Linked DNA regions of Homo sapiens: region 1 is linked to region 2. Evidence: fine-mapped expression QTL. A gene starts in region 2. The other region holds a variant in brackets. All regions are shown on one strand. Distances are between the middles of the regions.

Region 1 (4,000 bases), 44 kb after region 2:
CTGTACACAAGCTCCAGACTCAAACTGCCTAGGGTGGGGAGGTGGGGGTCCTGCCTCTGCCATTGCCAGACCCACCACCTATCTGGGCCTTAGTTTAGACATCCGTAAAATGCAGACAGTAGTTTCTATCTCAGAGGGTAGTGATTTAATGAGCAAGTGCATGGTGAATTGCTTAGCAAAATGTCTGGCTCGTGCTGAGCAGTTTTTTGTCAAATCTGTATATTTGGCTACGTACAGATGATGTTTTAGATATTTTATGATTTAACCATTAAGAACTAATTTTGCATATTTGAGCAAAAGAAAAGTGAGTCTGGGTAATCTAATTGTCATTTTCCTCCCTAGCATTTGAATAAAACCTACAATACAGATGTTCCTCTTGTTTTAATGAACTCTTTTAACACGGATGAAGATACCAAAAAAATACTACAGAAGTACAATCATTGTCGTGTGAAAATCTACACTTTCAATCAAAGCAGGTACAATGAGTAAAAAATTAACTCTGGGTATGTTACTCCTGGGAAAGGACTTCTTTATCTTGTTTATAACAGAGCAGTTTCAAGATGTACAGGTACCAAATATTGATGTTCACAAGTGTTTGATGCCCATAAAAGCTGAGCATTTGTTGATATGTGATTGTTATAATCACTCTGGTTCTCTAATTTCCAGTTCTTAAAATTCAGTCTGCTTGAGACTCTGTTCCATGTCCAGAATATTTGGGGATAGTTTAAGCCTTTGCTTTCTGAGAGCATATTTGGTCTCCAGGTGGGTCTGTGAAAATCTTTTTATATTCCTACATTATTGATAACCTTTCCTATGGAAAGGAATTTCTTCAACACCTTTTATGGGCTTGGGGTAATTTAATAAATTCTGGAGGAAATCTTTGGGGAATAGTGAGTAAAAAGTAAATTCAGATGATGAATTCTGATTGAAGGCCAGGAAACTGGAGAAATAAGACTTCCATTTAAGGGATGGACATCAGTCCACATGAACTTGTACAGAAGGGATGTTTTGAGGCTGGGTGTGGTGGCTTATACCTGTAATTCCAACACTTTGGAAAGCCAAGGCAGGAGGATTGCTTGAGCCTAGGAGTTTGAGACCAGCCTGGGCAACATAATGAGACGTCGTCTCTACAAAAAAAATTTAAAAATTAGCATTGGTGGTGTGCCCTTGTAGCCCAGCTACTTGGGAGGCTGAGGTGGGAGTATCACTTGAGCCCAGGAGGTCGAGGCTGTTTGTGCTACTGTACTCCAGCCTAGGCAACAGAGCAAGACCCTATCTCAAAAATAAAATAAAAATAAAAATAAAAAAGAAGGACATTTCTAAAGTTGTGTCATTAGTTTGTTTGGTTGTTTTTAAGATCTATTTCCCATGGTTACTTTTTTTTTTTTTTTTTTTTTTTTTTTTTACTTTGCAGATGTTTTGCCTTTATTTTCTAGTCTTTAGTCTGTTGCGGTGCTAGCTCCCGTTTTCCTCTTGCCCCATCACCAGCTTTACCTTTCTTACTAGTGGTGGGAAGCAGACATCTTGGAATGCTAACCTGGTGCTTATTTTCTGGGAAAGAAAGAGATCCACCCCTGAATATATCCATTTGTAAGAATGGGCAGTATTTCCCAGATAGGTTTTCAGGGAAAAGAACAATCTCACAACTACATAAGTTTGAGAAAATTTACTTGATA[C/T]ATCCCTTCTTTTGGAGAGTCATAAAACATGAATATCTTAAAAATATGATGGGTCCTCCCATCTGTATGACCATAGAGACATGTTTTTGCAGCAGCTATCACCATCTGGAAAACAGATTTTGGACAACACAGATACTGAGAGATTTTCTTAAATGGATTCACCTATAATTAAATTACTTATTGATAGACTCTGAAAAGAAGTGAAATTTTATTTAACTTTAATGTATTATTTTATTTAAAGGCCTGAAATGCTCTACAGGGTCAATATTGAAAAAGAACTTTTTTTTTTTTAAAGGTACCCGAGGATTAATAAAGAATCTTTACTTCCTGTAGCAAAGGACGTGTCTTACTCAGGGGAAAATACAGAAGCTTGGTACCCTCCAGGTCATGGTGATATTTACGCCAGTTTCTACAACTCTGGATTGCTTGATACCTTTATAGGAGAAGGCAAAGAGTATATTTTTGTGTCTAACATAGATAATCTGGGTGCCACAGTGGATCTGTATATTCTTAATCATCTAATGAACCCACCCAATGGAAAACGCTGTGAATTTGTCATGGAAGTCACAAATAAAACACGTGCAGATGTAAAGGTAAATACCGAGAGGAAGCAGTTTAGGGCTTCATGTTTTCACATTTCGTAAGTTATGAAGTTAAAGACTTTTTTATTTGAAAGTTTCTATGTTAAACAACACATTTAATATGTTCTGTTTGACATAATAGTATGTATCATAAATCCATAATAAATAGTATCAAAATCATCTCTATTTTTTTGGATAAGCTACATCAGTAATTTTAACTAAAATAATTTCATACATATTTATGGCAAAAATCTGAAACATGTGAAATCTTTCAGTAAAGTTGTCCAAACCTTTAATACTCTTCTAGTTTGGCATTTAAATGTTATTTCATTGTCCCTTTTATGAAAATTTACTCTGTTTCTACATAATGTATTTATATATTTTTTGTATAATCACTATCTTTGTATTTACAAAAAAATGCACTTGAGACTGATGTGGAGGCACTCACTATTTTCTGCCTTTCTAGGGCGGGACACTCACTCAATATGAAGGCAAACTGAGACTGGTGGAAATTGCTCAAGTGCCAAAAGCACATGTAGACGAGTTCAAGTCTGTATCAAAGTTCAAAATATTTAATACAAACAACCTATGGATTTCTCTTGCAGCAGTTAAAAGACTGCAGGAGCAAAATGCCATTGACATGGAAATCATTGTGAATGCAAAGGTAAGCCAAGGTTGTGGCCCATTGAGCTTCCTGGTTCCTAAGGTCATAGTAGGCTACACACAGACCCCATCGCCCACTCCCTCTGTCCCATCTATTCCATTGGTCACTCCCTTTTGCCTTTTCAGACTCTAGTTCCTAGCCCTGTCTTCCAGAATCTGCTGTCACCCCTCTAGTGTGCCAAGTTATGGTGCCCTATATTTGACCCTGGGTTGTGGTAGTGGCAAAAACACTGGGCTTCAAAAGTAGAGAACCTACTTCAGTCTTAGTTGTTGCTCTGACACTCATAGGTCATTTGGCCATCGGTACTTTGCATGAGTTTTCTGAACCTATGGTTTATCATGAAATGATATTACTGAACAGAAGAGTTTTAAGACTGAAAAAAGATTACATGTTTAAGAGTTTGGCATATGATAGGTGCTTGATAAATGTCAGTTCTCAAAATTATTTTTCTGGCCAGGCTCAGTGGCTTATACCTGTAATCCCAGCATTTTGGGAGGCCGAGGCCGGCAGATCACTTGAGGCCAGGACCAACCTGGCCAACATAGTGAAACCCCATCTCTACTAAAAATACAAAAAACTAGCTGGGTAGGTGGCACATGCCTATAATTCCAGCTACTCGGGAAGCTGAGGCATAAGAATTGCTTGAACCCAGGAGGGCAGAGGCTACAGTGAGCCGAGATTGCGCCACTGCACTCCAGCCTGGGTGACAGATCAAGACTCCTTCTCAAAAAAAAAAAAAAATTTTTTTTTTTCCATCAATGGATCTCTGAAATCACTTCCCAAATATTAACTAACCTACATGGAACTAAGTTGTAGGTGCCTAAAACCTCTGTTTTCTATTCCCCACCCCTAATTTCTTACAGACTTTGGATGGAGGCCTGAATGTCATTCAATTAGAAACTGCAGTAGGGGCTGCCATCAAAAGTTTTGAGAATTCTCTAGGTATTAATGTGCCAAGGAGCCGTTTTCTGCCTGTCAAAACCACATCAGATCTCTTGCTGGTGATGTCAAACCTCTATAGTCTTAATGCAGGATCTCTGACAATGAGTGAAAAGCGGGAATTTCCTACAGTGCCCTTG
Region 2 (4,521 bases):
CAAGGTCAGGGGTTTGAGACCAGCCTGGCCAACATGGCGAAACCCCGCCTCTACTAAAAATACAAACATTAGCCAGGTGCGGTGGCACGAGCCTGCGGCCCCAGCTACTCGAGAGGCTAAGGCAGGAGAATCGCTTGAACCCGGGAGGCGGAGGTTGCAGTGAGCCTAGACTGTGCCATTGCACTCCAGCCTGGGCGACAGAGCAAGACTCCGTCTCAAAACAAAAACAAAAACAAAACAACAACAACAAATAAATCTCTTCATTGTCCTTCATCTTTTGCAGGCTAAGTAACCCTACGTGGCCCAAATCTTTCGGTAGTATTTTATTTTGGTACTAATGCTCATTGGTAAAGACTGCTTTTTCAGTGCTGGAACAATTTTTGTACTGTATACAAAGGATGTAGAGATTTTGTTAAGATCTTCAGTCTCCAAATGCTGTTATTAAACTGTAGACATCTGGATTTTAGACACTTGTTTTGTCTGGGGAAAATTCGTTTTACGGCCGAGAGGTTTTTGAGTGTAATCTTTTTGGATTTCATGTAAGAAACACAGTACCAATGGTTGTCATTCTCTAGTATAACAATTTTTCACTAGCCTTTTCTGTGTTGTTTGTTCTAATAACATTTCCATATAAAGACGTAGAACCAAAAAATCAAAGTTCCTTTGTTTAGACAATGAGTCATTAAAAAATTCTCACTTTACCTTGGTTGATTAGTGCTGCCCAAAGCCTCAAACTCTTCTGTAATTACCGTACTTGTTTATTGAAGGCACTTAAGAGAAGGCGCTGGCAAATCATCTGCCCTGGTGCGGGCTATTTGAGTCTTAAAGTGGAAATGCAAAGTCTGAAATGCACTCGCTGCCAGGCACACTGAGTCTTAGATGCAGGTGGGGTTGACGGTACCAGGTGTGATTTGACAAGCCGTGGGCTGGCCCTGTAACAGTCCCCAGGCTAGTGTCAAGTTCCGTGTAACATCCTCTTTCCTTGAGGACTTCAAGAATCTACCAAAAGAAAAGCATCTCTTGAGGAGTAACTTAGGCCAGTTCCACGTTGAAGAGAAAAGTAAACGCCTATCACAGCAGCTCTACAGGATTAGGAACCGGGGCAATGGGGATGGTGGTGGTTCCGGTGAGGGAGCCTTCACTTGTCACTTTCTTCAATGCCTAAACCCTCCTTTTGTTAGCTGGCCCACACAGGCCAATGCCTACTCCCTAACGCATCCTCACCCTCCCCCAACCAGATGTGATGAGGGGAGCAAGCGTCCCCTGAGAAGCGTCTGGGCTCCCTCGGGGCAGCTGCGGTGGGGAGCTCCGGCTCTATCCGCAGGGCTTTCTTTAGTCCCTAGTCAGCGGGAATATTTTTACTGATTGGAAAAATAACCAGTCGTGCTCAGGTGCTCTCCCTCACTGAGATATACTGGCGAGGCTTCCCTGGCCGCAACGCCGCCGTAAGTGCTGCTCCCACGCGCGGTATCCCCGCGTACTGCTCAGTGCCCAACTCCGACGGGCTCTCAAGTGCCGCAACGCCCCGCCCCTTGCCACCTCCACACGTCTCATTGGCCAGAGCCTGCGTCCGCCTCGGCTCCTGACTGGCGGCTGCGCCTGTCGGTCCGTGCGGCAGGGACATTTCCGCATTGAAGGGGCTGCTCCGAATGGAGGGGGAGGGGAGGTGTTTAGGAGAAAGTAGGGGCTGTGGGTGTCGGGAGCCGGCTGACGGGTGGACAAGGGGGGGTTAGCAGCTGGGCTGCGACCGTTAGGGAGGGGCTCAAGGTGTGCATGTGTGAGGGAAGAGAGAGAGAGAGAAGGGCGCCTCAGAGGTGACTTTCAGCCTGCGAGCCTTCTTCCCGGGGCGCCATAAACGCCCCCAATTTCCCAGCTGCTAAAGGAAGAGGAAGGTGGGTCTCGCTGGCGGCTTGAGGAGGGGCGGGGTTGGGCTTCCGGCGACCCCCTGGATGAGTGTGTTTCCCGCTCTCGCTGGCCCGCTGTGTGGTCTCGGAGGCGGAATTTGGGCTTCTGAGGAGCGCAGGGCAGGCGGGGCGAGAATATGTACGGGAAGGGTCGGTGCCCTCCCTTGGGACTCCCGCGCCGGTGCACGGGTCTGCCTCTAGCCGGTGACCCCTTAGTGTCCGCTGCGGGGGAGGGGCAGCGTAGCCTTCGGCCCCTACCGAGAAAAAGCTGCGGCCGGGTTTCACTGCTCGAGGCGGGAAGGCGGGGAGCTGAGGCCCCGACCGGTCGGCCAGCCAGAGCGTGGAATTGGTAGCGCCTCCTAGTCCCAGGATGTTTATGGCTGGTGAAAATGGTTGCACTGCCCCCGCTGGCCGGCCTCGCCCGCCTCCCCGACCCCTGCTTGGGCGGGAGCCGCTGTTAACCGGGGTTTTCGGGGGAGGCGTTTGGGGCCTGGACGGCGGCGCGGGGAGGGGGCAGCTAGGGGCGCGGCCTGCCAGTGCCTCCTGCAGTACAGCCCTGGAGGGCGTGGGGACTTGGGGGCGGTGAAATAGCCGCTGTAGGTCCGCCTCTTTCATTGAAGAAATTTAAGTTCGTGTGGTTTTACCTTTTCCGGGAGTCTCCAGCTGGCCCTCATTTGTGTCCGGAGCTCAGGAGTTCCCAAACCGACTCAGTCGCACCAAGTTTCCGTCTTTTGGAATTGGGGAAGGAGTTTCTTTCTTTCTTTTCTTTTTTCTTGAGCCAGTTTTAATCGCTTTGAATAAATACTCCCTTAAGTAGTTAAATATAGGAGGAGAAAGAATACATCGGTTGTTAAAGCAGGAGAGGAAGAGAGACCTGCCCTGTAGCGTGACTCCTCTAGAAAAAAAAAAAAAAAGCCGGAGTATTTTACTAAGCCCCTAAAATGTCGAGATTTGTACAAGGTAAGAAATGCTGCTGCTTATATCCCGAGTTGCTTCAGGCAAATTTGGGTACTGACAGTGGAGAGGTTGGTGGGTGGTTTGGAAGTGGAAATGTTCATTTGAGATAACATTTGCGAAACCCTTTTCGTTGAATTGTCATCTGAGCTGCCTTGAGCTGCTGGGTTGACGTTCCAGACGCGTATAATTTATGCTCCTGTACCCTGCTGGGTTTAGTTTTGCCTCCCTGAAATCAGGTTAGTAGTACCGTCGCTTTCCTGGATAGTGGCTGTAAGTGATAAAACAGGATTTTTGGCTGCTAATTAATCCTTGTTCTCTTTTCCTGGTCTGTGTCAAGGTACCTGTGCGTGCACGCAGACGGGAAGGGCTGGGGAAGCGGGAGGACTGAGAAAAGCCGGGTGGGTTTTGCCGGGACTGTTGGGGAAGCTTTAGTGTTCTCCGCTTCTACTTCGTTTGTGTGTACGTGGTTTGCGTCTCAGATTCACTTATTGCGAAACTGGGAGTAGCCCGAAGAAGCTGGAGGTCATTTCAGCTGGAGAAATGACTTTGCTGCATTGCTGTGTTTATTTTTTCCTTTTTTGAACTATGAAAAGATGATTAAGGTTCCTTTGAAGTTTGAAAACTGCTCTCTAAATTCCACATGTGTATTTAAAAAGGGTTAGGGAATGCCTCAACTGAGATTATCAGTAACGTGTATATGAATGCATGTGTGTACGGTGTACTCACTGAAATTGGTGCTGGCATAAACCTTTGACACCAGTTTGTAGCATGAGATTTGCCTTCTGGTATGCAAGTAAACTCTTTCCTTGTAGACTCCAGTGTGTGAAAGCTTCAGCCATCTTGATGAACACACAGCTAGTAAAGTTCACAAACACTTATTATGCTTCCTGATAAATGTAGGTGTACTTTTGGAAAAAAAAAGTTGTGTCAGTAATGGCCATCATTTGACCCTGGGAATAAAAATGCCCTACTGAGTTCTACATCGCTTTATTAACTCTTCTTTAAATTTTGTGTAGTAGATTAAAGTAAGAGAATTCGACTGCCTGTGTTATTATCGAAACAGATCGAACGCTATGCTTGCCTTTAGCGCTAAGCTCAGAAATGTCACTTGTTATTAGACTTTCAAATTCATGTTATACCTTATATGTGGTAAGAGATGCTTATGTTCTGATTGAGTAAATGTCTTATTCAAGAATAGAAAGGCAGAACTGTTAGAAACGTACTGGTTTTGTAATAACAATATTCAGTTACCATAAAGGCGGTATTTTGCAAGAATATGCTAGGTAAAAGTGGACAAGTTACTTCTCTTTAAAAGTTAGAAATATTAATAAACCCAAGGTGTTCCATGTAGAGTTATGCTTTAGAATAGGTTGCAGAATTGGCAAGCATTGACTGATTTCACAGCCTTTGCTGTAATGCCAACTTGTCCTCAGAAGATTCAAAATCAAGTGGTAAGAGTTGCTGTGTATGTTTGTCATTACTTTGTCATCCACTTTTTTTAAAAAAACTTTTTATATTTTGGAATACTTCAGGATTTATAGAAAAGTTGCACATTTGTCAAAACTAAGAAATTAACATAGGTACATTACTGTTAACTAAAGGCTTTGTTCAGATTACAGTTCCCATGATTCACTCTAAGATACCAGATTGCACTTAGTTG

Alleles and levels. Positions count from the first base shown, and alleles are read on the strand shown. Sizes are in standard deviations (SD) of each study's normalised expression.
As copies of T replace C in region 1, the expression in aorta of the gene that starts at base 2,556 in region 2 goes up (small effect, 0.23 SD a copy in GTEx).

Evidence for each region. PIP is the estimated chance that this variant, and not a neighbour inherited with it, causes the effect.
Region 1: its variant is the best candidate, but not a certain one, in a credible set for the expression of UGP2 in aorta (GTEx, PIP 0.60).

The regions. Positions count from the first base shown.
Region 1 is chr2:63,883,618-63,887,617 of GRCh38, forward strand. UGP2 (UDP-glucose pyrophosphorylase 2) reads left to right here. Exons shown (of 10, transcript NM_006759.4): 5 at 343-476; 6 at 1,972-2,269; 7 at 2,724-2,921; 8 at 3,785-4,000. Among named protein-coding and RNA genes, the nearest start is that of UGP2, 44 kb to the left of the region's middle. The variant C/T (reference allele first, on the strand shown) is at 1,677.
Region 2 is chr2:63,839,341-63,843,861 of GRCh38, forward strand. It overlaps UGP2 (UDP-glucose pyrophosphorylase 2), which reads left to right and starts at 2,556. Exons shown (of 10, transcript NM_006759.4): 1 at 2,556-2,864. The coding sequence starts at 2,846. It also overlaps a transcript of WDPCP not described here. RefSeq lists enhancers at 1,563-1,742, 2,613-2,662 and a silencer at 2,203-2,512.